Homo sapiens: one gene and its partner. The protein of the gene in region 1 purifies or fractionates together with the protein of each later gene. This does not show direct contact. Each region holds a gene or a part of one and is shown in the gene's direction. Other genes may lie near its edges.

Region 1 (3,821 bases):
TCTTCCTCCAGGCTGACCCTGTCCCTTGTCCCTCTCTTTCGCTCCGCCAGGTGGCTGTATGAGGGCCTGAGCAGGGAGAAAGCAGAGGAACTGCTGTTGTTACCTGGGAACCCTGGAGGGGCCTTCCTCATCCGGGAGAGCCAGACCAGGAGAGGTGAGTAAGCTCGGTGCCAGCCCAGGCCCTCCCTACGTGGAGGTCTCAGAAAGGAGCCCACAGATATATGGCTGCAGGTGCGGCCCAGAAAATAGGCTTTGCCTGACTTCTCAGTCAACCAAGATTTCCTGAGCCCCAGCTCCGTGTCCTGCCCATATGAACCATGTGGAGCCCAGGCTGGGGGAGATGGAGACAGGCCATGAAAGCAGAGGAGAGGCAGCTAACTTTGGAGCAATCAAGGGAGGCTTCATGGAGGAATAGACCATGAGTGGACCTGGAGGAGTGGACCTGGGATCCTGAGGGATGTTCCCACAGGATCCCAGGCAACAAGACACAGTGGTGCTGGGGTGGGCCAGTGGGCTGCACCTCGGGACAATAGGAGGTTAGAAGTGAGCAAGCTCCAGCACAGAGGCCTTGGATGCCGAGCTGAGAAGCTTTGGTTTTCTCCCAAGGCAGTGGGGTTGCTACTCAGCAGAGACACAGTGCTGGGCGTGTGTTTTGGGGGAAACGAGAGGATGCATTACAGGGACTCTCTGAGTGTGTTCTGTGGGCCACCTGCTTAGAAGTAGAGGAGATGGGGGGTCAGTTTAGGGGACCCCGAAAATCGTATCCTTCTCTGAGAGGTTCACAATCCGTGTTAACACAAGACTTCTTAAGGCGTCGCGTTTGCCTAACTGGGCATTTCCCAAGTGTTTCTGACACAGGAGTGTTTCATCATGCAGCACCAGTCAGAGTCACTCCATGTTCATTCATTCAGCAAATGCTTCTCCAGCACCTATGATGTGGGGAGGCTTCAGGGAAGGACAGGACCTACTGTATGTGTCAGGCCTTAGGCATCTCTGCTGAGTGAGGTGGCCATGGTCCCTGCTCTCAGGGAGCTCCTGGGTCACTGGAAGCCAGTGTTCCATGGCACAGAGTTTGGGAAACATACCTCTATTTGAGATCCACAGTGATGCCAGGGCTTGCCCCTCCAATGCCAAGAGCCAAGTGTGATATGACTTGAGGGTGGGGCAGAAGGCCAAATGTGAAGGGCTGGAGTTCCTAGCCTTGGTGTCTAGCAGTCTGGCTGTCATCTGCCATGTTGCTGCCATGAGAGCCTATCAGCAATAGAGCAAAAATCTGCATTTCTAAAAATAATACAGGCCGGGCACTGTGGCTCACACCTGTAATCCCAGCACTTTGGGAGGCTGAGGTGGGAGAATCACTTGTGCCCAGAAATTTGAGACCAGCCTAGCCAACATAATGAGACCACTTCTCTACAAAAAAATTTAAAATGTAGTGAGGCATGGTGGTGCATCCCTGTAGTCCGAGCTACTTCGGAGGCTGAAGTGGGAGGATCACTTAAGTCCAGGAGTTCCAGGGTGCAGTGAGCCATGATTGCACCACTGCACTCCAGCCTGGGCAACAGAGCCAGACTCCATTTCAAAAAATAAAAGTGAATGTGAATGGCCCACAGTAGGGATCTAGGCTCAGCCAACACATTGGCAACTAGGATTTTTAATAGAGTATAGTCACAGAATTTCTCTGCGTTGACTAGGAGGTGATTCCTCCTTCCCCAAGACACAACATGATTCTGATCTCTTGGCAAAACATTAAAATGGTGACAGGATCTCTTGGGTCAGTAGCCAGTCAGAGCTAGAAACCCACTGGAAGTCATCTCATGGATCCTCCTCGCTCCACTGTACAGACTGAAAAACTGGACCAAAGAGGAGTAGGAACGGGCCACATGCACATTCATGTGGGGCTTCTCCCACCCCAGGTGCAGGGTCTTTTGCAATCAAAACACAAAGTTGATTGTCTCTTTGATGACCCTGCCTCCCTCTGAGCTGCTGCCCCTGAGTCCTTTAAGGCAGAGGCAAAGAGGGATGTTGAAGGAGCAGCAGCCCCCACGTTTATGTTAAGCCCTTTAAGTGACTTAAAACAATGTATGGGGATTGTACTTCCATTGTCTTCATTTTACAGATGGAAAAACTGAGGCTTAGGGAAGAGAAATAATTTGCCTGGGGAAACACAGCTAGTAAGTGCAGAGCCAGGATTCAAACCCAGCCACACCTCCTCTCACTCCAGGCCCCCAAGAAAGGCCCACGTGGGGCAGTAATGTTGGCACTGCAAGCATAGCAACAGACCAGGGAAGGAGGTATCAGGAATGGACAGACCTCCTGGCGCCCGCCTTGATATGAACCAACTGTGATAGGCTGTCGGGACCCTTCGTTCTCTGCCTCAGTCTCCCTCCCAGGACCCTTTCCAGCTTCTTTGTCTCTCCTCTCCTGCCCTTGGGCGTTCTTGGGTTGACCTCTCTGAGGCCCCTCCTGCTATTTTCTAGGCAGCATCAGCACCCCCACCTCACATACATCCATAGGCTGGTAGAGGGGCTGGGGAGGCCAGCCCAGCACAGCAGCTGCAAACAGGAAACCACAGCAGCGTTGCGGAGTGGAGCAGGGCCCCACTGCAGACTGTCCCCTGGAGCTTCAGAAGCCACAGGAAGTGCTCAGTGCTCAGCTCCCCTCCCCTGGCCCATTCTCTGGCCTGGGTCAGCCCCAAGAATATAGTGGCTGGCCCTTATGGCCACTCTGCCCCTTACCTAAAAAGACACAGATGCAAAGAGAAAACTCTGTGAGTGAGAAGAGAAAGCCGTATGGAGACTTTTTTTTTTTTTTTGAGACAGAGTCTCACTGTGTCGCCCAGGCTGGCGTGAAGTGGCACATTTTGGCTCAGTGCAGCCTCTGCCTCCTGGGTTCAAGTGATTGTCATGCCTCAGCCTCCCTGGTAGCTGGGATTACAGGCGAGTGCTACCACACCGGGATAATTATTATACTTTTTTGAGACAGAGTCTCACTCTGTTGCCTATGCTGGAGTGCAGTGGTGCGATCTCGGTTCACTGCAACCTCCACGTCCTGGGTTCAAGCGAGTCTCCTGCTTCAACCTCCTGAGTAGCTGGGATGACAGGCACATGCCACCATGCCCAACTAATTTTTGTGTTTTTAGTAGAGACAGGGTTTCATCATGTTGGCCAGGCTGATCTCAAACTCCTGACCTCAGATGATCCACCCACCTCGGCCTCCCAAAGTGCTGGGATTACAGGAGTAAGGCACTGCACCGGACTATTTTTTTTTTTTTGTATTTTTAGTAGAAACGGGGTTTTGCCATGTTGGCCAGGCTGGTCTCAAACTCCTGACCCTCAGATAATCCGCCCACCTTGGCCTCCCAAAGTGCTAGGATACAGGCATGAGCCACCGCGCCCAGCGGGATCCATGAAGATCTTTAAAGACTCATAAGATCCACATAAGGCCTCACCTGAGGTCAGGAGTTTGAGACCAGCTTGGCCAACATGGCGAAACCCCATCTGTACTAAAAATACAAAAAAATTAGCCGGGCATGGTGGCAGGTGCCTGTAATCCCAGCTACTCAGGAGGCTAAGGCTAGAGAATTGCTTGAACCTGGAGGTGGAGGTTGCAGTGAGACGAGATCGCACCACTGCACTCCAGCCTGGGTGACAAAGCGAGACTATGTCTCAAAAAAAAAAAAAAAATCCTCATAATTACCGGGACTAAGGTCTCCAGGTCCCCATAGTCAATTCCAAAAGGAGATGGATCAGGATGCAGCTATTGTTATCAAAGAGGAAGATGAAAAATGTTAGTTGGGGGAGGAGAAAAGAAAGAAGAAATTT
Region 2 (3,821 bases), on another chromosome or scaffold:
ATCAGGATTTGATGGAAATGTCATTATTTGGGACACTAACAGGTTTGTGAATAGGAGACCATGTTAGGATTATGAACAAAAACATTTTTTTTAAAGATGGTGAACAAATTCAGTGTTCTGTCCTAGCCTCAAGAAGGAAACTGGCTTTAGGAAAAGCAACCAAAAAGTGATGATATATTTTGTTAATTGTACCTAGTCATATATTGCAACTAAAAATTTTGGGGAAAATTATACAGGAAGGAGACCAAGTAGTATAGTTAATGATGAAAACTGGCTTATAAAAAAAGAGTTTCCTGAATTTAAGGAAAAATATTTTTGTTATTTCTCCTGTGAAACTAAACTGTTTCTCACTTTTTCTTCCCTCAATTCTACATATATTTATTTTGCAATTTTTGTTCTTTGTTTTCATGCATTAAAAGAGTAGTTCTCATTTGGAATGGTACTGATCTCAAAGGGAATGTTTAGGAATAAAGCGTGGGGCAATTTTGGTTGTCACTATGGGGGAAGAGAACTATCTACTAGCATGTAGTCAGCAAGGACCAGAGTTTCTAAACCTCCTGCAGTACACAGGTCAGTGTGCACAGTGGACTAGTTGTCCCACCTAAAATGCCAGTTATGCCTCTGTTGTGCAACATTCCAACAAAATGTCTCCTTATAAAGAAATTGATATTTAAAGAGTTGAAGTTTGAAAAACAATTAAAATATGCCTGCTTTGCTAGCTATGGTGAAATGATAATATAGTAAACACACCATGATCATTTCTGTGTATATTTGTTTTTGTTGTTGTTTTTGAGACAGGGTCTCGCATTGTCACCCAGGCTGTAGTGCAGTGGTACAGTCACAGCTCACTGCAGACTGGATCTCCCAGGCTTAAGTGATCCTCCTGCCTCAGACTCCTGAGCAGCTAGGACTATAGGCATGAGCCACCATGCCCACCTAATTTTTTATTTTTTGTAGAGACGGGGTCTCGCTATGCTGCCCAGGCTGGTCTTGAACTCCTGGGCTCAAGTGATCCTCCTGCCTTAGCTCCCAAAATACAAGGATTACAGGCATGAGCCACTGTGTGTGGCCATCATTTTCGAAATATTCTTTTTAGAGGTCATATGTAAAAAGAGAGGGGCTATTCTTGGAGATTTCTAGCTACCCATACTCTTTGAGTGGAAGGCAAAAACTATTGGTTATCTTTAGACAAAGACAAGCATACCTACTAAATGAATTTGTTTACTAAAATTTAGAAATAAAATTTGAATAGAAATATAAATGTAACTTCCAAATTAGTAGAGGGTAAAAAACTAATAAAACATGATCAATCCCATAGAAGCAGAGAAGGGAAGGAAAAAAGATAATTATTTAAAAGAACAGGTAAATTAGGAAGCACAAAACTAGTCATATACTGCAACTAAAAAGTTGGAGAAAATTATACAGGAAGGAGACCAAGTTGTATAGTTCATGATGAAAACTAGCTTACAAAATAAATTTCCTTAATTTCAGGAAAAATATTTTTTGTTATTTCACAAAGCATAAAACTAGTAGGCAGATAACCTAAGCTTTAATCCAAATATTAATAACTGTGATAAACGTATATGGGCTAAACTGTCCAGTTAAAAATAGACAGTGTTAGATTAGATTAAAAATAAAACAGAACTGTATTTTCTTTGTAAGGGACACAGTTAAAACATACAAACCTAGAAAAGTTGAAAGTAAAAGGATGAGAAAAAACAAACAATTATACGTCAAAGACAAAACAGTTGTGGCTACATTAATAGCAAACAAAATAAAGTTTAAGACAAAAAGCATTACTGATAAAAAGGTACTATAACAAAAGATTAATTTCACTAAAATATAAAAGCTTGTATGCGCCTAAAAACATAGCATAAAACTATAAAAAGTAAAAGTGGACAGAATTACAAGAAAGAAGTGAGAAATCTCCATCTCAGTGGAAAATATTAACAGCATTCTCTCATTTACTTATCTAGATAAGATAGACAAAAATGGGCCGGGCATGGTGGCTCACGCCTGTAATCCCAGCACTTTGGGAGGCTGAGGTGGGCAGATCACTTGCGGTCAGGAGACCAGCCTGGCCAACATGGTGAAACTCCATCTCTACTAAAAATACAAAAATTAGGCCACGTGTGGTGGCTCACACCTGTAATCCCAGCACTTCGGAAGGCCGAGGTGGGTGGATCACCTGAGGTCAGGAGTTTGAGACCAGCCTGGCCAGCACGCAGAAACCCCATCTCTACTAAAAATACAAAAATTAGCCAGGCGTGGTGGCTGGCACCTGTAATCCCAGCTACTTGGGAGGCTGAGGCAGGAGAATCACTTGAACCCAGGAGGTAGAGGTTGCCGTGAGCCGAGGTTGTGCCACTGTACTCCAGCCTGGGCCACAGAGTCAGACTCTGTCTCAAAACAATAACAACAGCAACAACAAAAATAAATAAAACACAAAAATTAGCAGGGCCTAGTGGCACACGCCTGTAATCCCAGCTACTGAGGCAGGAGAATCGCTTGAACCTGGGAGGCAGAGGTGGCAGTGGGCCAGCCTGGGTGACAGAGTGAGATTCTGTCTCAAAAAAGAAAAATAACAACAACAACAAACAAAAATGGATAAGGCTGTGGAAGATTTAAATATTATTAATAAGCTTGATGTATTACACATATTTAGATTTCTGCTACCAACAACTAGTGAAAACATCCTCTGAAGCAAACTTAGAACCAGTACAAAAATTGAGCATGTACTGAACTACAAAGTAGGTTTCAGCTGGTACCAAAGAACTATTATCACACAAACCATTTTCCCTGTTCTTAGTATCATTTAGTTATTAATTAAAAATTCTCATGTTTAGAGACTTATAAACTCACTTTTAAATAATTTATGGATCAAAGAAGAAATCATACTGAAGACAGGTTGAAAATTGATGAACTAAGCATCTTACTCAAAAAACTGGAAAAAAGTAAAAGGATAAACCCGATGAAAGTAGATGTATGGAAATGATAAGTGTAAAAGCATAAAATTGATGATGTCAAAAATGAAAATATAATAGAGGATTTTTAAAAGCCTGCTCTTTGAAAAAAGCTAATTGAATAGGCAATTCTCTGGCAAGATTCATCAAGAGAAAAAAGACATAAATAACTAATATCAGCAATAAAAAGGAGACAACAATATAGAAGAAGATGATAGATGAGCTTTATCCCTATATACTTGAAAACTTTGATGAAATAGCCAGTTTACTAAAAAAATACACCTTAGCAAAACTGGCCAAGGAAGAAATAGAAAACCTGAAATAGACCTATTACTAGGACTAATATTTAGCCAATATGTACTGGTTCAGCTGAAGTACTGTTAAAAGATTGAACTTCTTCCATACCAATTCGTAAATAGGCACTGCCCTGAGTTACCCTCTGACACCCTCTGACTACCCAGGCCCCTCTTCTAGAGATACCTCCCACAAAACCTTCCCATGATTCAGCAGCAAAAGTCCCCCTTACACAATATGGCGATTCCAGGACCCTGTTCCAGCACAGCCATCTGCATCTATTCTGACTGGCAAGTGTTCATGCGGTGCTTGTTATTTAAATATTCTGAATATCACCTCTGCCACAGCCATTAAAGAAATGGAAAAAATGAGTTAAAAACTACCTACAGTACTAATAAAAGAGCAGGTCTGTCAGTTTTACAGGTGACTTCTACCAAATATTGCAAATAAGAGAGAACATTCTAATTTTATTAAACTGATCAGATTATTGAAAAAGGGAATTCTTACATCATGTATAAAATTAGTATGACCTTGATACCCGAACTTAACAAAGATAATATTAAA

What was found.
Region 2: the proteins of SLA2 (region 1) and DCAF10 purify together in Homo sapiens (affinity purification with mass spectrometry; one large-scale study listed by BioGRID and IntAct). This does not show direct contact.

Annotation. Positions count from the first base shown.
Region 1 is NC_000020.11:36,628,928-36,632,748, reverse strand, and holds part of SLA2 (src-like-adapter 2), read left to right. Parts: intron 1-50; coding exon 51-154; intron 155-3,821. UniProt on the Homo sapiens protein: Adapter protein, which negatively regulates T-cell receptor (TCR) signaling. Inhibits T-cell antigen-receptor induced activation of nuclear factor of activated T-cells.
Region 2 is NC_000009.12:37,842,245-37,846,065, forward strand, and holds part of DCAF10 (DDB1- and CUL4-associated factor 10), read left to right. Parts: coding exon 1-42; intron 43-3,821. UniProt on the Homo sapiens protein: May function as a substrate receptor for CUL4-DDB1 E3 ubiquitin-protein ligase complex.